Linked DNA regions of Homo sapiens. The protein of the gene in region 4 purifies or fractionates together with the protein of the main gene of each other region. This does not show direct contact. Each region holds a gene or a part of one and is shown on either strand. Other genes may lie near its edges.

Region 1 (4,223 bases), about 11 Mb from region 4:
ATAATATAGCATGGATATCTTTTTGAGTCACTACATATAGTTAATTCATTTTAATTTTTTTAATTTTTAAAATTTGTTTATTTGAGACAGGGTCTCCCTCTGTCACCCAGGCTGGAGTGCAGTGCGGCGATCACGGATCACTGCAGCCTCAACCTCCTGGGTTCAAGTGATCCTTCCATCTCTCAGCCTCCTGAGTAGTTGGGACTACAGGCATACACCACCATGCCCAGCTAATTTTTGTACGTTTTGTAGAGAAGGGATTTCGCTTTTGTCATGTTGCCCAGGCTGGTCTTGAACTCCTGGGCTCAAGCAATGTTCCCGCCTTGGCCTCCCAAAGTGCTGGAATTAGAAGCGTGAGCAACCGTACCTGGTCAACAGTCTCTAAAAATTTTTTTTTATGACAAGGTGTCACTATGCTGCCCATGCTGGTCTCCATCTCCTGGCCTCAAGGGATCTTGCCGCCTCAGCCTTCCAAGTAGCTGGATTACAGGCTCCAGCCACTGTGCCCAGCCAGTTTAACTCATTCTTTTTTATATATTTTTTACTTTTATCTTAATTTATTTATTTTTCTGAGACAGGGTCTTACTCTGTCACCCAGGCTGGAGTGCAGTGGCAAGATCTCAGCTCACTGCAACCTCTGCTTCCTGGGTTCAAGCGATTCTCCTGCCTCAGGCTCCCGAATAGCTGGGATTACAGGTGCCCGCTACCACACCCAGCTAATTTTTGTATTTTTGTAGAGACAGGGTTTCACCATGTTGGCCAGGATGGTCTTGATCTCTTGACCTCGTGACCTGCCCGCCTCAGCCTCCCAAAGTGCTGGGATTACAGGCTCGAACCACCGTGCCTGGCCAACTCATTCTTGTTAACAGCAAAATATCCTGTAGTGTGGATGTACCCATAATTTCTTAAAATGTTCCCCATAGACAATCAGGTTATATCTAATTTTTGCCAGTGAAAAGCATGGTGTAATACACATCTTTGCTCTTATAGCCTGAAGCTTTTAGTCTGTAGAACAGATTCCCCCAAATTGGAGAGCGAGATAAAAGATTTATGTGTCTTTAAAGTTTCAAGAGATTCTGCCTCATTACTTTCCCTAAAGGTTGAGGCAGTTCTTATCCCCACCAGTAAGGTGCCAATTTTTCTGTTGGTACAATCTTAATAACCCTGGGTGTTATTTGTTTTACATTTTGTGGGTAAATGTAAACTCACGGTAAATGTAAACACAGTACCCATGTAAACGAATGGGTAAATGTCTCATTTTAATTTTGCTTTTCCTGACAGGTCACGCAGAGCATCTTTTTTTTTTTTTGAGACGGAGTCTCCCATTGTCACCCAGGCTGGAGTGCAATGGTGCAATCTTGGCTCACTGCAACCTCCCCCTCCCGAGTTCAAGTGATTCTCCTGCCTCAGCCTCCCAAGTAGCTGGGATTACAGGTGCCTGCCACCACACCCAGCTAATTTTTGTATTTTTAGTAGAGACAGGGTTTCACCATGTTGGCCAGGCTGGTCTCAAACTCCTGACCTCAGGTGATCTGCCCACCTTGGCCTCCCAAAGTGCTGGGATTACAGTTATGAGCCACAGAGCCCAGTTGTCAACATTATTTATTAAATCAGCCACTGATTTAAATGCTTCCTTTAATCTTCAGTGCTTTTAAGGGGAAAATACATTTCTGGCTACAGGAGATGGAATGCAATAACCTAATGTCAAACAAAGCCGCCCCCTCCTTTACAGACTGCAACTCCCCTGTAGCTGAAGGTTTGCTGGTTGGTAATGGGTTTTCCGTGTGTGCTTTGTGTGTGTCTCTGTAGGCAGAAGAGCACTGATCGTACTGGCTCACTCAGAGAGGACGTCCTTCAACTATGCCATGAAGGAGGCTGCTGCAGCGGCTTTGAAGAAGAAAGGATGGGAGGTGGTGGAGTCGGACCTCTATGCCATGAACTTCAATCCCATCATTTCCAGAAAGGACATCACAGGTAGGAGGAGTTCCTCCTCCCCTCTTTAATTAGTTCTTTGCGGATCTCCTTGCCTGTGGGTCCTCTGGCCCAGCTTTGGCCCCTCTGGCCCCAGCCTCTCTTTTTCTTCTCTGCAGGTAAACTGAAGGACCCTGCGAACTTTCAGTATCCTGCCGAGTCTGTTCTGGCTTATAAAGAAGGCCATCTGAGCCCAGATATTGTGGCTGAACAAAAGAAGCTGGAAGCCGCAGACCTTGTGATATTCCAGGTATGGGGGGACATCGGAAGGGGTGTCAGGGACATTTGCGTGCTTATTGTCCTAGACATGTACCTAATTAGCTATGAGATCTTAAACAGTTACCCACTTTACTGCATTCTCTGCAAATAAGGGTGATTACTTTAAAGGTGCAGTATTACATGGATTTCACAGATATTGGGAATCTGGCTGTATTACTGTTGCATGTGTAAATGCAACTGCAAGGCCAGGCACGGTGGCTCACGCCTGTAATCCCAGCACTTTGGGAGGCCAAGGCAGGTGAATCACAAGGTCAAGAGACCAAGACCATCCTGACCAACATGGTGAAACCCTGTCTTTACTAAAAGTACAAAAATTAGCTGGGCGTGGTGGCATGTGCCTGTAGTCCCAGCTACTCTGGAGGCTGAGGCAGGAGAATCACTTGAACCCGGGAGGTGGAGGTTGAAGTGAACCAAGATTGCGCCACTGCACCCCATCCTGGTGACATGGCGACAGAGCGAGATTCTGTCTCAAAAAAAAAAAAAAAAGAAAGAAAGAAATGCAGCTGCAGAGATGATGTACAGTCCTTGAGCTTGCTTTCTTCCAGGTACTTAGTCTCCCCTTCAGTTAGCGATTCCTTCAGTTAGCGATTCCTTCAGTTAGCGAATCCTGCGGTTAGCGATTCCTGTTGGACTCTCTCAAAATTTGCAGTTCTCCTCCTTTCTCCATAAGAATCCCAAATACTTTGTAGAATAATCCATGAGACATTGACTTCTCTGCCATTGTAGCCTGCCAGCTGAAGGGGGCTTTGAAACCCTGCTGAATGTGTTCCTGCAGCAAACCACGGCCTTTCTTCTTCGGGAAGCTGCCTTACCGTTTAGCAGACAATGCTGGGATTGTGCGTGCATCTCGTCAGTGATCTTTCCTATAAATGTGACTGTACTCAATGACTTTGCTTTTACAATTCCAGCCAGTCTTTTGATATTGAACATAGAATGTATATGATCCTGGAAACCACGAGGAGGGTGGTACAGGCTGTGTTTTTTTTTTCTCTCTCTCTCTCTTTTTTTTTTTTAGTTATTCAATCAGCTACAAAACATCCAATCCTTGAAGTCCTTTATTTTACCCACAGGCCTGTTGCTAAGAATCAAAGCCACATGCCACTAGCCAGTACCCCAAAGGACGGCTTTAAAAAAAAATTAAATTGGAGACAAGGTCTCACGGTCACCCAGGATGGAGTGCAGTGGCATGATCTCTGCTCACTGCTGCCTCAACCTCCTGGGCTCAAATGATCCTCCCACCTCAGTCTCCCGAATAGCTGGGACTATCAGTGCACACCACCATGCCCTGCTAATTTTTTAATTTTTTTGTACAAATAGGGTCTCACCATGTTGCCCAGGCTGGTCTCAAACTCTTGGGCTCAAGTGATCTGCCTGCCTGGACCTCCCAAAAGGCTGGGATTATAGGCATGTGCCTTTCATATCTTTAAATCATGAATCAAGGATAAGAAAACCTCCTGGTATAGTCCTTACTCTGCTTTTATTAGGATAAGAGGTCAGACAAGACTTTCTCATGGGAAGTCCCTGATGAACCTTAGTCACCCTAATTATTATTTATTATAATTTTTATTTTTTAACATTTTATTTATTTATTTATTTGTTTTTGAGATGGAGTCTCGCTCTGTTGCCCAGGCTGGAGTGCAATGGTGCAATCTCGGCTCACTGCAACCTCCGCCTCCCGGGTTCAAGCCATTTTCCTGCCTCAGCCTCCCAAGTAGCTGGGACTACAGGCATGCACCACCACGCTTGACTTTTTGTATTTTTAGTAGAAACAGGGTTTCCCCATGTTGGCCAGGCTGGTCTCAAATTCCTGACCTCAAGTGATCCACCCACCTTGGCCTCCAAAAGTGCTAGAATTAAAGGCATGAGCAACTGCACCTAGCCACGTTGATGATGATGATGATTATTATTATTATTATTATTATTATTTAGAGATGGAGTCTTGCTCTGTCACCCAGGCTGGAATACAGTGGTGA
Region 2 (4,223 bases), on a different chromosome or scaffold from region 4:
AGGAGCATGGGAGAGCAGTGTGGGTGCAGGACCAGCACCGGGTGTTGGTAGAGGCCCCCAGCAAATGCGTGGTGAGATGCTCAAGCGAGGATGTGCAAATGGCTGGGAGCTCAGCCTGGATCCCCACAGGGAGGTCAGAATTGGAGAGGGGCATCGTGAGGACTCAGAGACACTGGAGAACGAGGACAGGTCACATGCCAGAAACCAAGGGGTGAGGGAATGCCAACAAGAGTGAGGGGCCACAGGAAGTCCATGCTGAAGGGGACACAAGGTCATGACACTGACTATCGGGTCACAGGTGACTCTGGCCAGGTGTTGCCAGTGATGGAGTGGGGCAGATTGCAACAGGCTGAGAAGGGAGGACTGGAACCAGGGGTCAAGGCCTAGACCCAGTGGTAGACCAAGCGGTGCCGGGAACCAGAGGCTGCAGGGACTCCCTGTTGCTGGGCTCCAAGCTGCATTCTATGAGTTGGGGTCCAGGTGGCGCCATTTGCACAGAACAAGATTTGATGGCCACCTGGGAGGTTGTGCAATGTTGGTACCTGCAGGGACTCCTCCTGCCAACTGGCCAGATCCCCCGGGTCTTGCAAGATTCTTAAGGTTACAAAATTCTGTGTTTTCTCCAAGAACTGTGCCAGGGCCAGGGAAACCACAAGGGAGAATGATGCCCTGGCTGCCTGGAAGTAATCGTGGCCAGGAACTCCCAGGCACTCTGCTGTGGGCATGCCGTGGGCACAGAGCTTCCCTCCTGATGGTCTGCATGCCTGGCATGTCCACTCAGTGGGCAAGCAGCCTCAGAGGCAGCAGGGCTGGGTTTGGGAGCTTCCTGCAGAGAATGTGCTTACCTGCTTCGGGTTGGGCACAGCAAAGGGCATGAGAGCATCCATGGGCACCACCCACGGAGAGACAGTGGTCCCAAAACTCTTCCCAAGGAATGGCCCGAGAGGGACATACTCCCACTTCTGAATGTCTCGTGCTGCAGAAGAAGGGCACAGCCAGGACTTACAAAGGCTGATCAGGGCATCTCCCAACGACCCCCTCCTGCCCTTGACCAAGGAGCAGAGACACCTAGCACTGCCATCTCCACAAAGATCAGCCCCAGTCAGGCTGCCCCAGGACAAAGGGGCAAGAGCATTCAATGCCAAGGACAGAGGTCCTTTGAGGGCACTGTGCCAGGTTACAGCAAAGAGAAGGATGACCAAACGGTGGTCAGGATATCTCCCAGGAAGGGGCTGGAAGCTCATTCTCAAACTATGAGAGAGACACTTTCTGGGGCTTATGGTGCCATCTTCCTCCCACGTATGGCAAAGGGTTGAGAGCTCAGGCTCAGAAGCTGGACTGTTTTGCTTCAAATCTTAGTTCAGCAACTAACTGAAATCTCCCTGTGCCTCAGTTCCTCATCTGTAAAATGGGAAGATAATATTGCACATACCGTGTAGGGATCAGCGGGAGAATATACGAAGGGTGTTAAGCACAGGGCCTGACACATAAGTGCTCAGTAAATATTAGTTATGATGTCAGCCGTGTCCCTAGCCACTCGAGAAAATTGGAGCTCAGAGGAGTTAAGTGAGTGGCCCGAGTTCTTAGAGCTGAAAGTCTGTTTGATACCCAGACCCCCACTCTCAGTCACTGCATCACCTGCCACTTTTGACCTGCACCAGATCTTCAGCTTCTATGAAATTGCCCCAAGTCCCCAGCCTCCTCCCCGTCATCTCTACAGGAGCAGAGCTCCAGTAATTACCACTCCAGTCGTTCATAAGGACCATTCCAAAAATGTGCTCATGGGCCTTGGAAATGGGGATCGGCTCTCCCAATCTGTTTCCAGGGCCTACAAAAAAAGCCTTACATGGGGGAGAGTTCATTAGAATCTGGAGCTGATCTGCCGCCCAGGTCACTTGTCACCTAGAGAGCAAAGGTCAGGTATTTCCAAACTCCAGCCATGGACCAGGACTGCCACAGGGGCCTGGCATGAATCCACTGTGTTTCTAAGTCAGAGGTCAGATGGACGCCTCAGGAAAGCAGAGTGCAGTGGTGTGCCCTGCCCCCGCCATCGGCCTTCCTTCCACTCCCCTGAGCTCCAAAGCAGCCTCCCCTCCCTTCAGTGCATCCCAGGCCACTCTGCTCTTTCCTCTTCATCCCATACAGCCTTTGCCTTTCAAGACTTGACAGCCACATGAGGCTTGTAAAACTGAAACTATCAGGGTTTGTATTCATGTCATGAAAAACCAGGCCAGGCACTGTGGCTCACGTCTATAATCTCAGCACTTTGGGAGGCTGAGGTGGAAGGATCACTTGAGCCTCGGAGTTTGAGACAAGCCTGAGCAACATAGTGAGACCCCACCTCTACAAAAAATAAACAAAATTAGCCAGGCATGGTGGCACATGTCCGCAGTCCCAGCTACTTGGGAGGCTTATGTGGGAAGATTGCTTGAGCCAGGGAGGTCAAGGCTGCAGCAGGCCGAGATCACGCCACGGCACTCCAGCCTGGGTGACAGAGCAAGACCCTGTCTCAAAAAATAAAAAAATAAAATAAATAAAAATTTTCATTGCTCAATTCCCACCTATGAGTGAGAACATGCAGTGTTTGGTTTTTTGTCCTTGCAATAGTTTGCTGAGAATGATGGTTTCCAGTTTCATCCATGTCCCTACAAAGGACATGAACTCATCATTTTTTATGGCTGCATAGTATTCCATGGTGTATATGTGCCACATTTTCTTAATCCAGTCTGTTGTGGGGTGGGGGGAAGAGGGAGGGATAGCATTAGGAGATATACCTAATGCTAAATGACGACTTAATGGGTGCAGCACGCCAACATGGCACATGTATACATATGTAACAAACCTGCACGTTGTGCACATGTACCCTAAAACTTAAAGTATAATAATAATAAAATTTAAAAATAAAAATAAAAAATAAAAAATAAATTTTTTTAATGAAAAATGAAAAACCAAAAGACTGCCTCCTTCATGCAGCAAATAGTACCAGAGAGAGCACACCCCACGGCCTCTAACCCCTATCTGTCATCCCACTACCTCTAAAGAAAAACAGCACCAACGTGATGTCCATGAACCAGCAGACTAGCCAGGCATCATTAGAAAGAAAAATTTGGGAAAATCTCTTTGAAAAACATAGACTCAGCCATGACATTTGCAAAACTTAGTCACCATTTTATTTGTTCTGTGACAATAGTTAAACATTGCAAATTTTTCATCAAGATGAAAAAAAGAACCCAAAAGCACTAGTCCAGGTGACCTGGGCTCTCTGCCCCAACCATTTCTCCACATGCTGACTCTCTGTCTTTTCTCTCTCCCTCTCAACAGGTGAAGTGTCTGCCTGCAGAGTCCTTAGTTCTCCCAGAGAGAAGACCATGGCCCCAAACCAGGGCTCAGATGCCCTGCTCTGATGAATCTCAGCTGGGGGTCCTCCTCCCGCAGTCTCACATAGTACCCTTGCTAAGGCAGGAGGAGGCAGAGGGCTGGCAGGGAATGCCCTGCTATCCACGGGCTATTCGGCAGTGCCCACTCATTTCCCTCCTCTGGACTGAATCCAGAGAAATCACAGGGAAGCCCAGGAGAGACAGGGAGCTCCAGAAAAGCAGACGGGCCTTTCAGCCTGCCTCCACCAACCAGGGCTTCCCACTGTCTCAGCCTGACTCGGTGGCCCCATGACAGCTTCTTCTACACCATCAGTGATGAGGCACTCAGAGCTTCCTGAGGCAACGCCTAAAACTGTAGGTGCTGACTATGGGAAAGCCCCCTCCATCTGCCTGTCTGCATTTCCCACACGGAGACTGACTCCAACCTTGGGCATCAGACAACCCAGCAGATGCTGAAGACCCTGCCAGGTCCCCGGAGCGCTGCCTCCCCCAGGTCAGCTCCTCCTTTCCATCACTTCCCTGGTCCCCTCACCTTGGGGGCTGCCCAGATTTCAGTGTCCCCTCTGAAAAATGGGCAGCATGAGGGATCCTCAGGTGGTGGGACCGACTGTATCAACATCAACATCCAGGTTGTGATAGAGCACCATGGTTACGAAGGATGTTGCCACTGGGGGAGACTGTGTGAAGGGTATTGGGATCTCTGTACTATTTCTCACAACTGCATGTGAGTCTACAATGACCTCAAAATAAAAAGTTTAATTTAAAAAAGTGTGCAGCCCTGGCCGAGCGCGGTGGCTCATGCCTGTAATCCAAGCACTTTGGGAGGCCGAGGCAGGTGGATCACGA
Region 3 (3,898 bases), on a different chromosome or scaffold from region 4:
TCTTATTAGTACATATAAAAACGTCCTTGAAGTTCTGGTTTTATTTCTCCTTAATACTAAGTTAATGAAAATATAAAGCAAGGCATTTGCATAGTATGCCTGATAAGAAAAAAATCAAGAACAGGCCAGGTGCAGTGCCTCATGCCTGTAATTCCAGCACTTTTGGGAGGCCGCGGTGAGTGGATCACCTCAGGTCAACAGTTCCAGACCAGCCTAGCCAACATGGCAAAACCTTGTCTTTAAAATTAGCTGGGCGTGGTGTCACATGCCTGTATTCTCAGCTAGGCAGGAGGCTGAGGCAGGAGAATCCTTTGAACTTGGGAGGCAAAGGCTGCTGTGGGCCAAGACTGCACCACTGCACTCCAGCCTAGGCAACAGAGTGAGACTCTGTCTGGAAAAAATAAAAAAAGAAGAAGAAAAAGAAACAAAAAAAAATCAAGAACAGATTATGAGAAAAATCAGATTGGGGCGTAGCTCCACACATCATTTCACTTAACCAAAAAAAAATCCCAATCCCTGATTTACGGCATGTGTTCCGAATAAAAGACTATGCAGATGTTAATTTAATATTTACAAAGAGTAGTTTGACCTCAAAACTATAGCAGTTTTATTACTGTGAATTTTTTGCACACACCTACAGGTTATATAACCTAAATATTTATTAAGTAGTCAATTCTATCTTCCTATTCTGGTTTACTGATTAAAAAAGCATAACATTGTTTCTTGATAATCCTTTTAAATGTGGAAAGAATGCCATAAAACCCTTTCCCAGAGATTATGAATTCTGGCTTAACTAAATTATTAGAAAGATTATACTTGTTGGAGTTATTAAGTTTCCTTTTGGGGTGAATGTAGGGAAGAAGTATGAAAGTTGAGCAATCTGCAGGGCAAGAGGAAGCAGAGTTACATAAGCCATGCTTGGGACACAGTTTAAATTCAGAGCTTTAGGGAATGCTTTACAGAAAGGGAATAAATTACTCACCTGGCAAAACTTGGTCCAACAGTGTAACTGCAATAAAGAATACATTCTGGGGACAAAGTACTCTAATTTAAAGTATGTTAAATACAAAATTAAGCTTAAAGAACACCTAGCTGGCACATCTCTCTATATATATTTTATGCCACAGAGTTATATTGACAAGTGAGATAAATTACTGCATACCTGGGAGGAGCTGTTGGATAAATAATTTTTATGTGTTGGAATGTTAAATCTTGATTTAAAACCTGCTTGATCCACATTCTTAATCCTTGTCCAGAATCACCTGATGAATCAAAAAATCTAGATTAAAATAAATATTTTAGTAATACAATGCATTTCAAAGCAGTCTAAAACTTTTATGTCACACAGAGGATGGAATAAAGGATTTAAAAAAGCTCCATACATCATAATAACCATATAGAAACTGACTTACTAATATGAATTAACTAACTAGGTCTCAATAACTAGCAATAATTTTGATTATTTTACTCCTGGCTTCACCATTGATTACTCTGAAGATCTTGTTTAAGCTTAAGTTTTAAGTTACCTAATTTGTTTAGTGGGTAGTACAGGAATAAATAAATAAATTGATTTTTCTAAAAAAAATTTTATTTCTGTATTTATATGTGACTTTTAATAGTCATTTCTTATCATATTCTTAATAGTAATAAATTCCTAAAGTGACTGTTAAACTTCTGTAGTTAGAAGAACCTAATTTTCTTGGTTAAAAAAAGTCCAAAATGTGTGTTCAGTGTAATTTTATTTTAACTTGAAAAAATCATAATTTAATTTTGACAACATGTTTACATGACCTAAAAGAAGAATTATCTACTCCAAAGCTGGTAAGTAATAAAAAGCCATATAAATATTAATGTATATGTATTTACAGAAAAAAATGGAAGGAAATATAAGTCCATCTTATGGAGTCCTGAGGAGGAAATTAAGGTCACAACTTTAATTTTTTAATCAATTAACTCATTAAGGTATCAGTTCAAAAACTGCCTATTGAATCCCTGTTAATGTGTCAAGCACTGTGTTCACTGCTAGAGAGGCAATGATGGTGGGGTGAGGGAGGAATAGAGTCCCTATTCTCATGGAGTGTGTAGCATATTGTGAAAAACAGAAATTAGTCAAAAAATCACACAAATAAATGTGAAAGGCAAATGTACCTGCTTCAAAAATGAGACACTTGGTGTTGCAAATATTTATTTTATTCACAACTGACTGGGTTTATGGAGTTCAACAATAAATGCACTAGCCTATAAACTCTGCAAGAGGAAGTTTATGATGTATTTTATCTGAGTTATTTGTTCACATAGTGCCTAGAACAGGACTGACAAAAACTGGGTATCCAAATATAGTTGCTGAATGGTTTGAACTAAAGTCTACAGGATGGTGAGAAGTGCAGGGCAGAAGAAAAAAGTATCCCAGGGCGAGGAAAGGGCAGGTGCCAGGATTCTGGATAAGAGGGAGCAGTATGACATGTAAGAACTGAAAAGCAGAGAATGAAAAGAGCAGTGTCTATAAAATGAGACCAGAGAAACTGTAGGAACGTGACAAATCTGTTCATGAAGAAGTCATGAATATTTCTGACAGAAAGGTTGGCATGATTCTAAAGGATCAATCTGGAAGCTGTGTCAAGACAGAATTGAAAGAGAGCAAAAGTAGATGTACAGAGATCAGTTAGGAAACTACTGTTCATGCTTAGACTACAGCGATGATGTAGATAGAAACAGATACTAGAGAAATTTAGGTGGTAAAATTAATAGAGATTGGCAACGGATTTGTTATAAAGGGTCAACAGTAAAAGGTCTCATGGATGACTAACAGGCTTTTGGCCGGAGTAACTGGGTGAACAATACTAGACACCTGCCTAGACAGGAAACATAAGCAACAGGCATACACAGGTTGAGTGTGAGGTGCCTCTTTGTAATGCATACAAGGTCTTATACCATGGGTTGATTGAGCAACTATGGACAGCTAGAGGGGAGGACAAAATCCAGCCTAGGGTCCTTAAGGAGGATAAGCTAAGAATGAGTTTTACATTATTAAAGACTCCTTTCTCAAAAAGAGAGAGAAGGGAAAACTATGGGGAAGAGACCTTACATGGCCCACAAAAGCTAAAATGCTTACCTGACTTTTTGCAGAAAGTTTGCCAACCCCTGCCCTACACTACCTGGATGCCAGTACCCTCTTGGATATCCCTTCCTATTCTTCTCACTCCAGACACACTAGCCTTACTGCTGTTCCTTGAACATGTCAAGGACCCTACCCTGGAGCCTCCGACTTGGCTTTAAAGCCAAGTCTAAGTCTAGCTGTGAAGTTTCATCTTCTGTCATCTTTGCAGTGAGGCATAACCTGACTACTTTATTTAAAATTGTAACACTGTTCCAACTTCTCATCCATGGAAGAATCCCCTTATCCTGCTTTCCTTGTTTCCATAAAACTTACTACCTTCTACTATAGTATTTATTTACTTCATTAGAACATAAGCTCCATGAGAGCAGTGATTTGTTTTTTTCATTGCTGTATGATCAGAGCACAGAACAGTGCCTTACACATGGAGGCTGTGATATATTTCTTGAATGAATGGATTCATGAATGAATGTCTATCAGGCAGTTAGATGAACTTGTCTAGAGCTCAAAAATAGAATCTATGAATCTCCACAGAAATTCAAAGGTTCTATTTTTACCTATACACCAGTGACACAAATGGGTATCTCTAGGAGACTTCTGTGATTAGCCTAGGGAGAAAAATGTAGAGTGAAAAGACCTTGGACCAAATTTAGAGAAACCCCATCATTAATGGCCAGGTAGAGGAGGATGAGTCTGCAAAAGAAACCAGAAGGAGCAAATCAAGACAGAAAAAGAACCAGGAGAGTTTTTTGAGAAGAAAGCTGAATGCAGATGACAGTTCAC
Region 4 (4,223 bases):
CTGGGTGCGGTGGCTCACAGCTGTAATCCCAGCACTTTGGAAGGCTGAGGTGGGAGGATGACTTGAGCCCAGGAGTTTGAGACTGGCCTGGACAACACAGTGAGACCTTGTCTTTATAAAAAATCAAAAGGAAAAAACAAAACAAAACAAAACAAAAAACAAAAAAAACTATCCTGAACCAGACTCTTAGTATTTACTTTAATCTTCATGGGACAGAGAGACAGAAAAAATAGTTGTCACATGATGACTAGGGGAGGTACATATCAAGTTTCTTAGAGATAGCAGATTTAGCTTTTCTACCCAAGAGCTGCTCAGAGATGTGACCTCTCAACTAAGCAGCTCATATAACAAATATACGATAAACTCATATAACAAATCACACCTTCCACAGGCATCATGGTTTTATGAACTCATAGAGTAGGGGTTGGCATTCTTTCTGTAAATGGCCAAACAGTAATTATTTTAGGCTTTATAGGCCATATGGTCTCTGCCTTCTACAACTGCTCACTCGGCCATGGCAGCAAAGAAGTAGCTATACAAAATTCATAAACAAATGGGTACAGCTGTGTTCCAATAAAACTTTATTTACAAGAATAGGGGGCAAACTGGATTGACTCTCAGAACAGTTTGCCAACCCCTTTCTACAGCAGTGTTTTCTAAATTATGTGTCATGACCCATTGGTAGGTTAATTTTTTTATTTTTTATTTTTTTATTTTCTTTTATTTTAATAGAGACACAGTCTTGCTATGTTGCCCAGGCTGGTCTCCAACTCCTGGGTTCAAGGGATCCACCTGCCTTGGCCTCCCAAAATGCATGCTGGGATTATAGGTGTGAGCCACCTTACCTGGCTTAGTATGTTAAATTCAACTTAGTAAGATGCAGTTGGCATTTAGAAAATATTGGAGTGGAGGCTGGGCTTGGTGGCTCACGCCTGTAATCCTAGCACTTTGGGAGGCCGAGGCAGGTGGTTCACTTGATGCCAGGAGTTTGAGAACAGCCTGGCCAACATGGCGAAACCCCGTCTCTACTAAAAATACAAAAAATTAGCCGGGCGTAGTGGCGGGCGCCTGTAGTCCCAGGTACTTGGGAGGCTGAGGCAGGAGAATGGCGTGAACCCGGGAGGCGGAGCTTGCAGTGAGCCGAGATCCCGCCACTGCACTCCAGCCTGGGCGACAGAGCGAGACTCCGTCTCAAAAAAAAAAAAAAAAATTAGCTGGGTCTCGTTGTGCACACCTGTGATCCCAGCTACTCGGGAGGCTGAGGCACGAGAATTGCTAGAGCCTAGGAGGTGGAGGTTGCAGTGATTGTGCCACTGCACTCTAGCCTGGGTGACACAGCAAGACTGTTTAAAAAAAAACAAAAAACAAAACAAAACAAAAAACTCGAGTAAAGCACATGAAGCCTTTAGTATTGAGTCTGGAAGACAGTTTCAGTTATATACACATATAAGTATATAATATGTTCAAGGTCATGATGTAAAATATATATTTTTAAAATTTTATAGATGGGGTTTCAGTATGTTGCCCAGGCTTGTCTCAAACGATCTTTCCACCTCAGCCTCCCAAAGTGTTGGGATTACAGGTGTGAGCCACTGTGCCCAGACTTAAATATATTTCTTATGTGGATTGTGGTCAAAAAAATTTAGTAACACTAATTCAGAGAACAGATGTTGAGAGTCAGATAGTACAGATAATAAAAAACAAGCTGAGTGCAGTGGCTCACACCTGCAATCCCAGCACTTAGGGAGTCTGTGGTGGGAGGATCATTTGAGCCCAGGAGTTTGAGGAGACCAGCCTGGGCAAGACAGCAAGACCCTGTCTCTACAATAAAATACAAACATATGCAAAAATACGGATTCAATGCTAGCAATTATTAGGACACAAACAAAAATATGATGTTTTTAAGGAAGTTTTCCTATGTAAGGTACTTAATTTGAAACTGATTTTAGGGGAAAGCAGGTTCTACTTAACACGGAGATGACGGAATAAAAGGAACTACCATTTAAAAATTATGACTGCCTCTTACAGAGAAATATCAATTAACTTGGTTCAAAGTGCTAACAAATACTCGGGAGGCTGAGGCTGGAGGACTGCTTGAGGCCAGGAGTACAAAGTTACAGTGAGTTAGGATTGCAACACTGCACTCCAGACTGGGTGACAGAGCAAGACCCTGTCTCAACCAATCTATCTATCTATCTATATATATAGATTGAGACGGAGTTTTGCTCTTGTTGCCCAGGCTGGAGTGCAATGGCGCAATCTCGGCTCACTGCAGCCTTCGCCTCCCAGGTTCAAGTAATTCTCCTGCCTCATCCTCCCGAGTAGCTGGGATTACAGGCATGCACCACCACATCCGGCTAATTTTGTATTTTCAGTAGAGACGGGGTTTCTCCATGTTGGTCAGGCTGGTCTCGAACTCCCGACCTCAGGTGATCCACCTGCCTCGGCCTCCCAAAGTGCTGCGATTACAGGCGTGAGCCACTGTGCCCGGCCTTAATTTTTTAAAAAAGGAATGCACATTTTTTGCTTCCTTCCCTGCCTTCCACATATGGAATCTATGGGGTACTGTATATCACTAGAGGTCAATTAAAAACTAACTTTGAAGGAGCAGTGGTGGGAACAGGTAGGTGGCTGGGGAGTGGCATAAACCTTTACCATTGTTTTCGCAAATCTGGGGTGTTCAGAATGGCAGCAGCAATCCGGGCCCCATTGAGGGGAGGGTTGGAATACATGGGACGGATCAAGATCTTCAACTGTGACTCTACCCTTTTGGCTTCATCCGCATCTTTGCAGACCATAGTGAAGGCTCCTACACGCTCACCTGAAAGACAAAAATGGATCTCGTCTTCTACTTCTACTATCTAATGTGCTAAAGCAAATCATGAGTGTATTTGCTACGTATTATCTGTTTCCATCCAAAGGACCCCAAAATAACTTTATTATAAATAAAAAGCTTTCAACAACCAGAGTGGTGAACTGAGGCACAAGGAAGTTTTGAGTACTCAGAGTATTCAAAGGTATTTTTTATTGTATCTATCTTCTTGGCTCACGGATTTGTTACTTTTTGTTTAGAGAAGCAGTAATCAGTTTCCTTTGCTGGAAAAACTTAAGGACACCGAAGAATATATGGCTAAGAAAATCAGTAAAATCTACGATACTGGTCTTTCATCTTAGGGTAGGGAGGGACATGGACATGGATGGACACACACACACACACACACACACACACACCCACAAGCTCTATGCCCTCGTGGCATTCTCTCCCAGCATGAGAGCATGTGTCATGCTGGATGCTGTAGCTTACCATATAAGCCCATGTTCTTGGCATATGATTGGCAGAGGCAAACATTAATGCCCTGTTCGATGAAGTGGCGCACAGCCCAGGCATCCTTATCACCATCACCACTGGCAAAGCCTTGGTAGGCCATGTCAAAGAACGCAAAGAGATTCCTTTTCTGAGAAGGAACGAAAGATCGAAGCTTTAGCAGTCTTTCTGAAGAGGCCCCAGATGTTTATAAAAGTCTGAAAGATGTTTATGTGAGGTGGGCATGGTCCCAATAAGCACAATAAGCCTTTTCTGGGGCTAACGTAATCCTGGAAGACTCAACTTATACCCAGGACTCACGAGACAACATCATTAGAACCATTTTATCTTGAAAGTGCTCTCCAAATGCTGTTTCTGTCTCATTCTGTTTGCAGCTTAGATTTGACAGAAGTTAAAGAAAGGGAAACTGGCCAGGCATGGTGGCCCATGTCTATAATCCCAGCACTTTGGGAGGCCAAGGTGGGAGGATCACTTGAGCCCAGGAGTTTGAGATCAGCCTGGGCAACAAAGTGAGATGCTGTCTCTGTGAAAAATAGGAAGAATTAGCCAGGCAGGTGTGGCACACATGTCTGTAGTCCCAGCTACTCAGGGGCTGAGGTAGGAGGATTGTTTGAGCCCTGGAGGTAGAGGCTGCTGTGAGCTGTGACTGTGCCACTGCGTTCTGGCTTAAGGCGACAGAGTGAGACTCTGTCTCAAAAGAAAAAAAAAGAGAGAGAGAGAAAAGAAAGGGAAATGAAAAGGAGTGAAAAGGGAAAACAGGGACATGAGACAACAGGAATAACATTTTCCTCCCTAGGAATTTTGACTAGTGTCTTCTCTGACAGCTGGCTACACTTTGAGAGTGATCATGGCAATGCTGCAAAGGAGAGGACATGAAAAAGTGTTTAAAAAGATCAAT
Region 5 (4,223 bases), on a different chromosome or scaffold from region 4:
CTCCTTTTTTTTTTTTTTGAGATGGAGTCTTGCTGGGATTACAGGTGCATGCCACCATGCCTGGCTAATTTTTGTATTTTTAGTAGAGACTAGGTTTCGCCATGTTGGCCAGGCTGGTCTCGAACTCCTGACCTCAGGTGATCTGCCCGCCTTGGCCTCCCAAAGTGCTGGGATTACAAGCCAATGAGCCCGGCCCAGAATCCTTGCTCTTGACCACTATGCTATACTGCCCCATGACCTTGCCACACGCAAGACGGGCTGCCACCCACGCTCTGGTTCTTTTATTCTAGTAGAGCCAGAGGGGTGTTCATGGATCTGACAATGTGCTCCATGTTCCATGTGAGTGTCCAATTGGGCCTCAGTTCAGAGAACAGCAGGAAAATGGCCTCCCTTCTCTCTGACTTGGACTGAAGATCTGTCTGATGAACCAGGCCCACTGACAGCAGGGTTGAAGCTGGAAACACAGGCCAGCGGGGCTTTCTGAAATACTAGAGCAAACGCCCTCCGTCCATTTCCACAGGCTGAGGGGCTTTCATCTGTTCATTTTCCGGATCAGGCAAATCCAGGAGAATGGCCTTCTGTGGCTGCCTGGGGGGCTCCTAGCTGCAAGGCCTGGGCCCACAGGAGGCAGGCAGCTGTGTGGTGCCGGAATGATCTTGCGGGGAGACAAATTAGCCCGATTCTGCTCTGCTGTTTAAAGTAAATATGGGGTGGGGTGGGGTGGCTCAGGCCTATAATCCCAGCACTTTGGGAGGCAGGATCGGGGAATCGCTTGAGTCCAGGAGTTCGAGACCAGCCTGAGCCACATAGTGAGACCCCCCTTCTCTACAAAAAATAAACAAAATTAGCTGGGCGTGGTGGTGTGTGCCTGTAGTCCCAGCTACGCGGGAGGCTGAGGTAGGAGGATCACTTGGGCCCAGGAGATTGAGGCTCCAGTGAGCCAAGATCACACCACTGCACTCCAGCCTGGGCAACAGAGCAATACCGTGTCTCAAAAAAATATTAATAAAGTAAATATGAGCTCTCTCCCTGGCTGTCTGGTGTTGAGTGGAAAGAAAGGCATTGGCGGGTCTAGACCCTTTTGGTTTACATATGGATGAGCAATGATCCAGAGAGGCTAAGTGACTTCAACATCACAGAGCACATTGGCGCCAGAACTGGGACCGGAACTCAGCTTCCGTAACTGTCAGTCCCATGTTCTCTTCCCTAGATATCAGAGGGCAGGGGCAGGCCCCAAAATGTCTGAGACCCCCAGCTGCCTTGTGGCCCAAATTCTTGGCCCTGCTCTGCCTCAGACAGTCTGCTTTCAGCGTCCTGACCTCTGACCATCGCCTGTGCATGCCAGGTCTTGCATCTGTCAGGCGGGAGTTCAAGGATCATTGTCGCCAGATAATAATAGTCAGGAGCTCAGGGACCCTTGGATGAAAGGTGTCAGAGACAAGCCGTCAGTGACGCACGAGGATTTGGATAAGGTCCTGGAGCGAGGTGGCAATGTTGGGCACGGCGGCAGACCATGCCCAACATGGGGGAAGGGAGTGTATGTGGTTCAGGCTTGTGCGTGTCTCTGTGTGTGTGTGCAGGTGAGTATGGCGTGTGCTGGGATATATTTATGTGTACCTCTGTGTGAGTGTGCAGGCCCATATGTGAGTGTGCACACACATCTGTGAGAGCCTGCATGCATGTACACGTGTGAGGTGTTGATACATGTCCATGTAGGTATCAGTTTGCCTGTAAATATCTCTGTGTAACAATAACAAAGTCCGAATAGTCATCAAGAGTATAGACATGAAGCCAGACTGCCTGGGTTAAATCCCCAGCTAGTTAGTCTTTCGGTGCCTCTGTTTCTTCCTCTGCAAAATGGCGTCTACCCCATCAGGATTTTAAAATCAGTTAATATGGCTGGGCGCCTGTAATCCCAGCACTTTGGGAGGCTGAGGCAGGCGGATCACAAGGTCAGGAGATCGAGACCATCCTGCCTAACATGGAGAATTCTGAGAATTGCTCAAACCCAGGAGGTGGAGGTTGCGGTGAGCAGAGATTGCACCACTGCACTCCAGCCTGGGCAACAGAGCCAGATTCCATCTCAAAAAAGAAAAACAAAAAACAAAAAAACCATGAACTCATTTTCAGGTTGAGGAGCTCAGCATCCTGGTTGTGAAATACCCTCCTCATAAAACCCTGGGATGGAGACTACGGGGATCAGGTGCTTCCTTGTGACAACTTCTGGGCATGGTGGCTCAGGGCGCAAACTGGAGTGTGGCCACAATACATACTGTGTACTTTTACAAGGATGTCACAGAGCCTGGGTATCATAAAAGAGGAGCTTTTCAAGGAACTGAAACCATTAGACAGGAGAGAGAGCCCTGGGCAGACAGGGTTGCCCGTGCCAAACATTTCAGCTGTGGCACAAGGGAAAGGGTGGGAGTTATGAAACTGTTCCATTTTGGGTTTAGGTCTGGGCTCTGCCGCTAGCTAGCCAAGTGACCTTGGCCACTTATCTCTGTGGTCTTCCATGAGTAAAAGGCGGAAACTCACTCCTACCCAGAGGGCAGGTCTGACTCCCTTTAACCAGCACCCACCTGCTCACAGCAGGAAGGACTGAGGTCTAAAGCTGGAGGTGGGCAGGAAGGACTGAGGTCTAAAGCTGGAGGTGGGCAGGAAGGACCAAGGTCTAAAGTTGGAGGTGGGCAGGAAGGACCGAGGTCTAAAGCTGGAGGTGGCTGCTCAGAGTCCCAGCAGAGGCCTCTGGGGCACCTCACTGAGTGCCTGGCAGGAGTGGGTGCCTGTCTCAGGGCTGGGTTGAGTTGCTCCCACCAGGACCCTTCGTCATCTGCACAGTGAGGGGACTGGGAGGTTCAGAGAGTCACAGCTTGGGCTCAAAACAAGCAAGAGGTTTCTGAGTGTGAGGATTGCTCTGGAGTGGAATGGCCCTCACAGGTAGGAGTGAGCCTCCTGTAGCTAGAGGTATTTAAGCAGCTGAAGGACAATCCCTGGGCAGGAAGCTGCAGAGATGGTCGCAGCGTGGACTAGAACTGCTGTTTTGGTCACTCAGACCTCATTCCAGCCTGGCTTCTCTGGACAGCACCCCTGCAATAGTGAGCTGGTGACTTTACGCCTCAGAACCTCGGTTTCCACATCTGTAAAATGGGAATTATATGACACTCACTATGTGCCAGACACCCTGTTGGTACATAGCACACACTATCTCACTTAATCCTTCAAGTAGGGACAAGTTATCCCCATCCCTTATATGAGGAAGCTGAGGCACAGAGAGGTGAAGTGAATGGCCCAAGGTCACACAGCTGGGAAGACAGGGAGCTAAACTTGAACTCTAGTCTGGCTGCCCCCAGACCTCACACCGCACCTCCCATGCCGACTCCAGCCTTCCCTGTGCCCACAGGCTCTTTAAGGGTCACCCAGAGACTCTGGAGAAGTTTGACAAGTTCAAGCACCTGAAGTCAGAGGACGAGATGAAGGCGTCTGAGGACTTAAAGAAGCATGGTGCCACCGTGCTCACCGCCCTGGGTGGCATCCTTAAGAAGAAGGGGCATCATGAGGCAGAGATTAAGCCCCTGGCACAGTCGCATGCCACCAAGCACAAGATCCCCGTGAAGTACCTGGAGGTAGGAGCAGAGCCTGGGCAGGTGGGAGGATGCGGGGAAGGCCTCGGGTGGGGCAATGGGATCTGGGTTCGAGTCCAAGCTCAGCCACTAACTTGTGGGATGACCTATGCCACTCTTCTCTGTGCCCCAGGTTTCTCATTTGTAAAGGGGACTGCCACCCACTTTGCCTTCCTCCTGGGATTGTTGAGAATGAACACACTTAGCATTTTTAATTTAGTATGCCAAATTCACATCTTATTACCAAAGAGGAAAGGGAGAGGGGATATTGGGTGCAAAATTTGCATCCTCTCCATGGGTAGGTACCATTATCATATCCACTTGATAGATGGGGAAACTGAGGCTCACAGAGGTTAAGCAGCTTGTCCACGGTCACAGGAGGTGGATAATGGCAGAGCCAAGATTCAAACGCAGGTCTCTATTACTACAGAACCCCAGCCCCTAACTGCTGTGCCACTGGGAGTCTGGTACATGCAGGACTTATGTGGCAGGAGCTCAGCAAGTGGGGCTCAATTTGGGGTGGGGGTGACCAGCAGGTTGGCTCTATTGGTTCCAGCATCTTCACAGATGAAGAGACAGGACCTCGGTTTCCAGCACAAGCAA
Region 6 (4,223 bases), on a different chromosome or scaffold from region 4:
CTAATTTTTTTGTATTTTTAGTACAGACAGGGTTTCACTATGTTGGACAGGCTGGTCTTGAACTCCTGACCTCAGGTGATCCACTGGCCTCCCAAAGTGTTGGGATTACAGGCATAAGCCACCGCACCTGGCCAAAAAGATTTTTTTAATTAGCCAGGTGTGGTGGCGTGTGCAGCTGTTTGGGAGACTGAGGTGGGAAAATCACTTGAGCCCGGAGTTTGAGGCTGCATGAGCTATGATCATGCCATTGTACTCCAGCCTGGGTGACAAAGCAGGACCCTATCTCAAAATAACAAAACCCAAACCCTTTATTTTTAAAAAGTTAATATGTTTACTGTAGGAAACTGAGAAACACAAGAAGCAAAGAACAGTCATCCACAATCACAAGCAGTTTACAGTTTGACTTGTCCTTCTAGGTCCTGTGTGTACATAGACACAGTATCCAATTTTATGGGATTAAGATCACGCAGTATGTATCGTGTTTTATCACACATTATGGATATTTACTAATTATATTATTATATGTTGTCACATCAAGACATCTATGAAGCTTAGGTGTTGCAAAATAATAAACTCTGTCCACAATAAACACAAGTACTTTACTAAAAATGCACCTATAGACCTGTGGTTTTTCATCTAAAACCATCTTCTAGATATGGAGATTCTGACTAAGAGCCCTTCCTTCCACCCGTTCTTCTTTATCCTGTTCTGTCATTCCAGTGACTAAGTACAGGACTATGTCTAGTTCTAAGAGGTCAATTAACAAAGGTCACTCCCAGAGGATAGTCCTTCTTAAGAACTGAAAACGTGAATAAATGTTACACGTACATAATAAGCTGCCATTTGAAAGTGTCATCTAAATAGGAACGAACATTCTGGCATAGAACCCTTCCCACCTGTCAACTCAGTGGATAGATATAAGCATTTGTAGTGCTTAGAGGGGACTTTAACAATTTCACTTCCCTAAGTGTTTTTAAGAACAGTCTTTCCTATGAATTTGAACACAAAATGTACTCAGTGTATTAGGTTACTGACTCTACGTTGGTCATACGCTGTCAACCTCTTTAACATCTAGAACTAGATGTTGTAAATTAGGGCTCATTTGTCCTTCATATACACTATATACATAGCAAAGTAAAATAAAATGCATGGACATAAGGTACAGTGGTCAATCTTGCCTCACTGTAAACACATTGGTATAAAGCCCTTTGCACTTTATTCTCCTCCTTTTCTCCTGACGCAGTACAAATGTAATGATGTGTACTGCTTAGAGAAGTGGTTTGATCATTACATTTCCAAAAGGTAATATTTCAGTGAATTTTAACAAAAGGATATCTACAAAATGTGTTACTTACTACCCTACTTTTAACATACTTTGTGCACTTCTAAACATCTAGAAAGTCTCGATGTTTTAAATAAGGACTTAAGTCTGTCCACTTTATACACAGTAGATTTTTAAAAATAGTTGTGGTATCATATTTACCATAACATGCTTTCCTCATTCTACATTATTATATTTTGCAGAGTTTTTCATGTTAGTACATGTAGATTTTATTTACCTGTTATAATATTCCATGGAATGGATATAGCATACTTTAACAGTTACCTGGCTGGTGCAGTGGCTCACACCTGTAATCTGAGCACTTTGAGAGGCCGAGGTGGGCAGATCACGAGGTCAGGAGATCGAGACCATCCTGGTTAATATGGTGAAACCCCATCTCTACTAAAAATACAAAAATTAGCCGGGCATGGTGGCGGGCGCCTGTAGTCCCAGCTACTCGGGAGGCTGAGGCAGGAGAACGGCATGAACCTGGGAGGCGGAGCTTGCAGTGAGCTGAGATCATGCCACTGCACTCCAGCCTGGGTGATAGAGCGAGACTCTGTCTCAAAAAAAAAAAAAAAAAAGAAAAACAGTTACCCTATTTATATTTATTTGAATTGTTTCTATTTTTTTGCTCTTACAAATAGGGTTAATGTGATCAGCATCATATATATGTTCCCAAAATGTCTGTACACATTTGTCTGTGATGAATAATGGAAGAAGCAGAATTCCTTGGAAGAAGAGCATGCTCATTTATATTTTAATAGACAATGCCAAGTTTCCTTCCAAAAAGCTCATACTAATTTATAATTTCACCAATAATGTAAAGGTACCTTTTTCTGTATTGCCTCAACTCTTGATATCAGTCTTTTTTATATTTACCAATCTTTTGGACAAAAAATAATGCCTCCATATTTTAATTTGTTTTTTCCTTATTACCAGAGAGGTTGAAGGCCTTGTGGAAGGTTGATAGCAATAGTTAGCTGTGAGTTTATTTAGTCCACATTTGTTTATTGAGAGCTTAATGTGTGCCAGTCACTGTTCTAAGCACTGGAGTTAAACAGTGAACAGACAGGCAAAAATTCCCACCCACATGAAGTTTGTAGTAGGAGTTGTCCATTCATAACCTCTGCCCATTTTTCTATTGGTTTGTCATTTTCTTTCTTATTTTCAGGATATATTCTAGATATTTTGGTATGTATGTTGCAAACATTTCTTCTAGTTTATTCAGCATCGCTTTACAGTATCTCTTTTTTTTTTACACAAGGATTTATTTTATTTTATTTTTGGACAAGGTCTCACTGTGTCACCTAGGCTGGAGTATAGTGGTGCAAATTGCAGCTCACTGCAGCCTCGACCTTGTGGACTCAAGTGATCCTCAGCATCCTGAGCTGGGACCATGGGCATGCACCACCATGCCTGGCTAATTTTTAAAAATTTTTTGTAGAGATGAGGTCCTGCTGTGTTGCCCAGGCTACACAGGATTTAAATTATCATGGCAAAATATTAATCTTTTCCTTTTGAAGTTCTATTTTATGTCTTGTTTAGGAGTCCTTTACTCCTAGGATTTACTTTATTTTTCTTAGAGATCAGGTCTCACTATCCCAGGCTGCTCTCGAACTCTTGGGTTCAAGCGATCCTCCTGTCTCAGCCTCCCAAAGTGCTGGGATTACAGGTGTGAGCCACTGCGCCCAGCTATTCCTAGGATTTAGACATAATCACCTATATATTGCTCTTACTAATTTTTGGTTATATAGTTATTTTATAATTTTGGTTATGTTTTTTAATCTGGAAAAATTAGGGTCATTATTTCTTTGAATTCTTTCTTTAGCTCTTGTTCTCTCTTCTCCCTCTGGGATTCCAGTTATGTGTGTAACATTTTCTATTGCCCCACAGCCCTTAGATGCTGTTGTTATAGGGTTTATTCCCCCACTTTTTTCCTTTTTGCATTTTCAGTTTGTGTAATTTCTATTATCCTATCATCAAGTTCACTGACTGTTTCCTAGGCAGTACCTGTTTTGTTGAGAAACCTATTGAAAGTGTTCATTTCTTTTACCATATTTTTGGTTTTTAGCATTTCTCTTAGAGTCTTTTTATAGTTTCCATCCCTGAAATTATGTATCTGATTTTGCATGTTGTCTGTCTTTTCCATTAGAGTCTTTAGCATTTTAATCATAATTATTTTAAATGCCCAAGCTTTTGGATCCAGCATCTGTCATATTTGAGTCTGGCTCTGGTGATGGCTTATTCTCTTCACACTATGTTTTTTGCCTTCTGGGATGTTTTCTACTTTTTGGTTAAAGCTAGACATATTATAAGGGCCAGTAGATACTGAGGGATAGGGATTTGTAACAATCTAGTCAGGAATTGGGCTGTTGTTTGAAGTCTGTTGTTGCTGTCTGTGAGGTTTGTTGTTGCTGTGGGCACCAGAGACTTCAAACCCCTCTAGCAACTTGTTTTTGTCTCCTCTCTTGGATTTGGGTCTTCCCTTTGTACCGTTTCCCAAAGAGTCTATCTGTTGTGGCTCTCCCAGCTGCAATTTCCTGTTATTCTTGGAGATTCGATGGTGGGGTGTGGGAGAGGGGGTCGTTCTCTAATGTTCTGCTTCTCCAAATTTGAACTGGTACCGTGGGCCTGTGTCTCAAGGGTAGTCATTTGTCTCAAGGGTAGCCAGTTCTTCTAAACACAGTAAATTGAATGAGAAATTTTTTCCTCACTCATAATTGTCATCTTTATTATCTACCTTTTTGTCTAATTGTCACCTTTGTCTATCTTTTATCATATAATATACAAAATTCCTGTTTATATATACAGTATATACAGGTCTGTTTTGGGACTCTGTTTTGTCTCAGTGATACATTTGTCTCCATTCTCAAACCATGTTGTTTTATTACTACGTTTT
Region 7 (4,223 bases), on a different chromosome or scaffold from region 4:
TTTCCCTTTCAAATGCGGCTTTAGACTGAAAAAGAATGAGTGGAAACTTTACCAGGGCCAGTTCAATGCTCATCATTAGGAAAACGATTGAGTTTGCTTTCCAGAGAAGCACAGACTAAAGCTTTCTACTTTTACTAGAGATGGAGAGGAGACTTTTTTGTTTTTGAGCCAGGACCTCACTCTACTGTCCAGGCTGGAATGCAGCAGTGCAATCATAGCTCACTGCAGCTTCAAAGTCCTGGACTCAAGTGATCCTCCTGCTGCGGCCTCCTGAGTAGGTGGGACTATGGGTGCATGCCAACACGCCTGGCTATTTTTTTTTTACTTTTGGTAGATATAGGGTCTTGCTATGTTGCCTAGGCTGGAATCAAATTCCTGGCCTCCAGCAATCCTCCTGCCTCAGCCTCCCAAATTGCTGGGATTACTGGCGTGAACCGCCGCGCCTGGCCTGGAGAAGTCTTTTCTGGCATATACAAGAGAAGCCAGCAGCAACAGGTTACCAAACCCCCGTGCCCCTGGCCTGGGGGCGTCTGTGTGCCAGGTTCCTGCAAGTTACACACCCTACCTCTGCAGGATTCGCTGTCCCCTCTCCTCCCTGTCCCCATGGAGCCCTCTTGTGGCAGGACATCTCACAGCTGCCCCAGTGCACAGAAGCCACACCCGGAGCCTGCCCCACTCCAAGATACTCACGTAGGCCATGGCGTACTCAATCTCAGCGCCCCGCACCTCTGCCTTGAACTGTGTGAAGTACAGATAGGACTTCCCCTGGGGCCTGCAGAGGAAGAGGGGGCGAGGGAGTCAGGCCAGGCCTGCTGGGTCTGGGTCTGTGTGCCCTGGAAGGAGCCCCGCCAGGGACTCGGGCTGGGGTCAGCAGGTCTCGTGCCTGCTTCTCAACATGGACGCCATTCCCGAGCACGAGCACCTGCTGACTGGGAAGGATGGATGGGGCCCTCTCAACAGCAGACCCTCTTTCTTTTGTGCCAGAATTTTTTTTTTTTTTTTTTTTTGGAGACGAGTCTCACTCTGTTGCCCAGGCTGGATGGCAATGGCACAATCTCACTCACTGCAGCCTCTGCCTCCTGGGTTTAAGTGATTCTCCTGCCTTAGCCTCCCTTGTAGCTGGGAGTACAGGCACCCGCGACCACATCTGACTAATTTTGGTATTTTTAGTAAAAACATGGTTTCACCATGTTGGCCAGCCTGGCCTGAACCCCTGACCTCAAGTGATCCACTCGCCTCAGCCTCCCAGAGGGCTGTGATTAGAGGTGTGAGCCACTGTGCCTGGCCCCTTTGTGCCAGAATGTTCTTCCAGCTCATTCATAGACACGCCTCTCTCCCCTGTGGGCTGGGAGCTGCTCTGGGACAGGACCCCATGTCCATTCACTGCACATGGCTTCTTGGTTGCTGACAGCAATCCAGGTACTACGACGGGGGCTGGGGCTGGGCAATGAGAGGCCAGTAAAGGCTTCTCAGAGGGCATTGACTAGGAAGTACAGGAGTTAACTTAAGAAGTGGGGAGGATCATCTGCCCAGGTCTCTAGAAGGCTGCTAACGGAGGCTTCTAAGGAACTGGAGTGGCAGAAGGTGTCGGAAGGTGACAGCAGGGGATGATGGCATCTCTGGTGTGAAGAGAGTGTGATGGGGATGGAGGGGCAGCAGGGGGGCCATTTCTGTGGAAGCCCTGGCTGGGGTTCTATGTGCATGGGTGGGGCGGGGGTATCCAGGGAGCCCTAGATTCTTCTTTAAGCCCTAGCACTGCCAACAGCCCTGGTCAGGGAGGGTCCAGTCACTGTCTGAGATGAGGAGGCCTGGGGTGGCAGGTCTCCGGGGCTGAGCATGCCCCTGGGGAGCTTTTGTGGGGGTTGGACAGGAGGATTCAGGCTCAAGGTGAGCCCAGCCACCATCCCAACTGCTCCAGACCTGCACCTGCCCAGATGCCCTCTGGGGAGCTGGCACTCAGGGGTCCATGCAGGGCAGTGGCCTGCAGACAGACGATGGCGACCGTGGGCTTCCCCAAGACTACAGGGCGGCCTCTGCAGGGTCTCTCTGGGCTGATGGGGCCTATCTCCTCTCAATGACCCTCCTGATGCCTCCTGGGGCCTTGGCCTGCCTGTGATGCAGCCAGTTCCATGGAGTGGGTGAGAATCTCCCCAGAAACACCTGCTGTTTGTAAAGCGCCCCGCAGGGCACGGCGGGACAACACCCACACGAGGCAGCAAATCACACCCTGTCCTTCAGTTAAACGTCGCCACTCCCTGATCTCTGCCTCCCATTTGTCAACGTGCTTTAACCTGACCGCAGTGGTGGAGCTATAGCTTGGACTTCTCCCTCCAAAGTGTCTGCACAAAATAAAGGCTCAAGAAATACCCACTGTTTGGGCTGAGACATTCTGGGCCAAGGATCAGGGAAGAAGGGACAAGATTCCTGAAGCCCCCGACCCCCTCCCCACCGGGGGGCCTGACGGCTTCCTTCCCTTCATGACCTTGCCCAGATCGAGCTGGGATCTAGGCAGTGGGGTTACGAGAATGAGTGGGGCGAGTGGAGCCGGGATAAGCCCATAAACCATGAGCCTGACAGAGGATGGCGGCAGGGGCAGAATCGGGCGGTGTCTGGGGAGACTTGGGGAGGGGCTGTGGACCCAGATGCATGTGTGTTCGGGCAGGTGGAAGAGAGTGCACAGCTTTTGTCTGATTCCCAGATGTCTGCACCCCAAGAAGGCTATGAGCCATCAGGCTGGTCCTTCAGAGAACATGCTGGTAAAGACCTGCCTGAGGGGAAACAGCTGGGGCCCCTTCTGGTGGGACACATTCCCCGGGAGATAGCATCATCCAAACCTCCACAGCCACTACCCCACAGACTCCCACACCTGCCACCTGCCTAGCTCGTCCCCAGCCCAGACCTGCACCAGCTCCGCCAGTTCCACCAGGACTCTGCCCAGCACCTTCCTCCTCCTCCTACCCCAGCTAGCTGATTCCACAGCCTCCAATCTGTGCCCTCCCCTCCTCCCTGTCCTCATTTTACACAGCCTCCAGTCTGTGCCTTCCCCTCCCACTCCGTCCTCATTCTACAGCCTCCAATCTACTCTCCCCACCCCACTCCATCCTCATTCTACAGCCTCCGATCTACATTCCCCACCCACCTCATCCTCATTCTACAGCCTCCAATCTACCCTCCCCACCCGTCCTGTCCTCATTCTACACAGCCTCCAATCTACCCTCCCCACCCGTCCTGTCCTCATTCTACACAGCCTCCAATCTACCCTCCCCACCCACCCCATCCTCATTCTACAGCCTCCAATCTGTGCCCTCTCCACCCATCCCATCCTCATTCTACACAGCCTCCAATCTACGCTCCCATCCACCCCATCCTCATTCTACAGCATCCAATCTACTCTCCCCACCTACCCCATCCTCATTCTACACAGCCTCCAATCTGTGCCCTCTCCACCCACCCCATCCTCATTCTACACAGCCTCCAATCTACCCTCCCCACCCCATCCTCATTCTACAGCCTCCAACCTGTGCACTCTCCACCCACCCCATCCTCATTCTACACAGCCTCCAATCTATCCTCCCCACCCACCCCACCCTCATTCTACACAGCCTCCAATCTACCCTCCCCACCCACCCCATCCTCATTCTACAGCCTCCAATCTACCCTCCCCACCTCATCCTCATTCTACAGCCTCCAGTATACCCTCCCCACCCACCCTGTCCTCATTCTACACAGTCTCCAATCTGTGCTCTCCCCACCCACCCCATCCTCATTCTACAAAGCCTCCAATCTACCCTCCCCACCCACCCCATCCTCATTCTACACAGCCTCCAATCTGTGCCCTCTCCACCCACCCCATCCTCATTCTGCACAGGCTTCAATCTGCGCCCCACCCCCAACCCCCGACTCCATCCTGGTTGGTGCCTGGAGGGGCTCCCTGCCTCAGCCTGCCTCCTTCAGCCGGGGGGATCTGAGCTCCACATGTTCCTGCAGGGAGCCCTCTGGAATAGGACTCAGCCAGGAAAAGAAATGAGGCTGACACGGGCCTCAGCATGGATGAGCCTTGAGGACGTCACGTTCAGTGAGAGACGCCAGACACCAAAGGCCACACAGGGAAGGTTTGACCCCATTTCTATGCAATGTCCAGGACACGCCCATCCACAGAGACAGGAGGGGGATGCGTGGCTGCCATGTGCTGGGAAGGAGAATGACTCTGATGGGAACAGAGT

Evidence for each region.
Region 1: the proteins of GOT2 (region 4) and NQO1 fractionate together in Homo sapiens (co-fractionation; one large-scale study listed by BioGRID). This does not show direct contact.
Region 2: the proteins of GOT2 (region 4) and FAH fractionate together in Homo sapiens (co-fractionation; one large-scale study listed by BioGRID). This does not show direct contact.
Region 3: the proteins of GOT2 (region 4) and LYPLAL1 fractionate together in Homo sapiens (co-fractionation; one large-scale study listed by BioGRID). This does not show direct contact.
Region 5: the proteins of GOT2 (region 4) and MB fractionate together in Homo sapiens (co-fractionation; one large-scale study listed by BioGRID). This does not show direct contact.
Region 6: the proteins of GOT2 (region 4) and METTL6 purify together in Homo sapiens (pull-down; one large-scale study listed by IntAct). This does not show direct contact.
Region 7: the proteins of GOT2 (region 4) and MYDGF fractionate together in Homo sapiens (co-fractionation; one large-scale study listed by BioGRID). This does not show direct contact.

What each region holds. Positions count from the first base shown.
Region 1 is NC_000016.10:69,716,121-69,720,343, reverse strand, and holds part of NQO1 (NAD(P)H dehydrogenase [quinone] 1), read left to right. Parts: intron 1-1,809; coding exon 1,810-1,974; intron 1,975-2,090; coding exon 2,091-2,221; intron 2,222-4,223. UniProt on the Homo sapiens protein: Flavin-containing quinone reductase that catalyzes two-electron reduction of quinones to hydroquinones using either NADH or NADPH as electron donors.
Region 2 is NC_000015.10:80,169,767-80,173,989, reverse strand, and holds part of FAH (fumarylacetoacetase), read right to left. Parts: intron 1,842-4,223; coding exon 1,742-1,841; intron 977-1,741; coding exon 846-976; intron 1-845.
Region 3 is NC_000001.11:219,176,511-219,180,408, reverse strand, and holds part of LYPLAL1 (lysophospholipase-like protein 1), read right to left. Parts: intron 1,263-3,898; coding exon 1,163-1,262; intron 1,010-1,162; coding exon of another isoform or gene 983-1,009; intron 1-982.
Region 4 is NC_000016.10:58,713,359-58,717,581, forward strand, and holds part of GOT2 (aspartate aminotransferase, mitochondrial isoform 1 precursor), read right to left. Parts: intron 3,456-4,223; coding exon 3,305-3,455; intron 2,822-3,304; coding exon 2,656-2,821; intron 1-2,655. UniProt on the Homo sapiens protein: Catalyzes the irreversible transamination of the L-tryptophan metabolite L-kynurenine to form kynurenic acid (KA). As a member of the malate-aspartate shuttle, it has a key role in the intracellular NAD(H) redox balance.
Region 5 is NC_000022.11:35,610,284-35,614,506, reverse strand, and holds part of MB (myoglobin), read left to right. Parts: intron 1-3,400; coding exon 3,401-3,623; intron 3,624-4,223. UniProt on the Homo sapiens protein: Monomeric heme protein which primary function is to store oxygen and facilitate its diffusion within muscle tissues.
Region 6 is NC_000003.12:15,417,544-15,421,766, reverse strand, and holds part of METTL6 (tRNA N(3)-cytidine methyltransferase METTL6), read left to right. Parts: intron 1-4,223. UniProt on the Homo sapiens protein: S-adenosyl-L-methionine-dependent methyltransferase that mediates N(3)-methylcytidine modification of residue 32 of the tRNA anticodon loop of tRNA(Ser), including tRNA(Ser)(UGA) and tRNA(Ser)(GCU).
Region 7 is NC_000019.10:4,659,979-4,664,201, forward strand, and holds part of MYDGF (myeloid-derived growth factor precursor), read right to left. Parts: intron 2,101-4,223; coding exon of another isoform or gene 1,743-2,100; exon of another isoform or gene 1,728-1,742; intron 773-1,727; coding exon 691-772; intron 26-690; coding exon 1-25. UniProt on the Homo sapiens protein: Bone marrow-derived monocyte and paracrine-acting protein that promotes cardiac myocyte survival and adaptive angiogenesis for cardiac protection and/or repair after myocardial infarction (MI).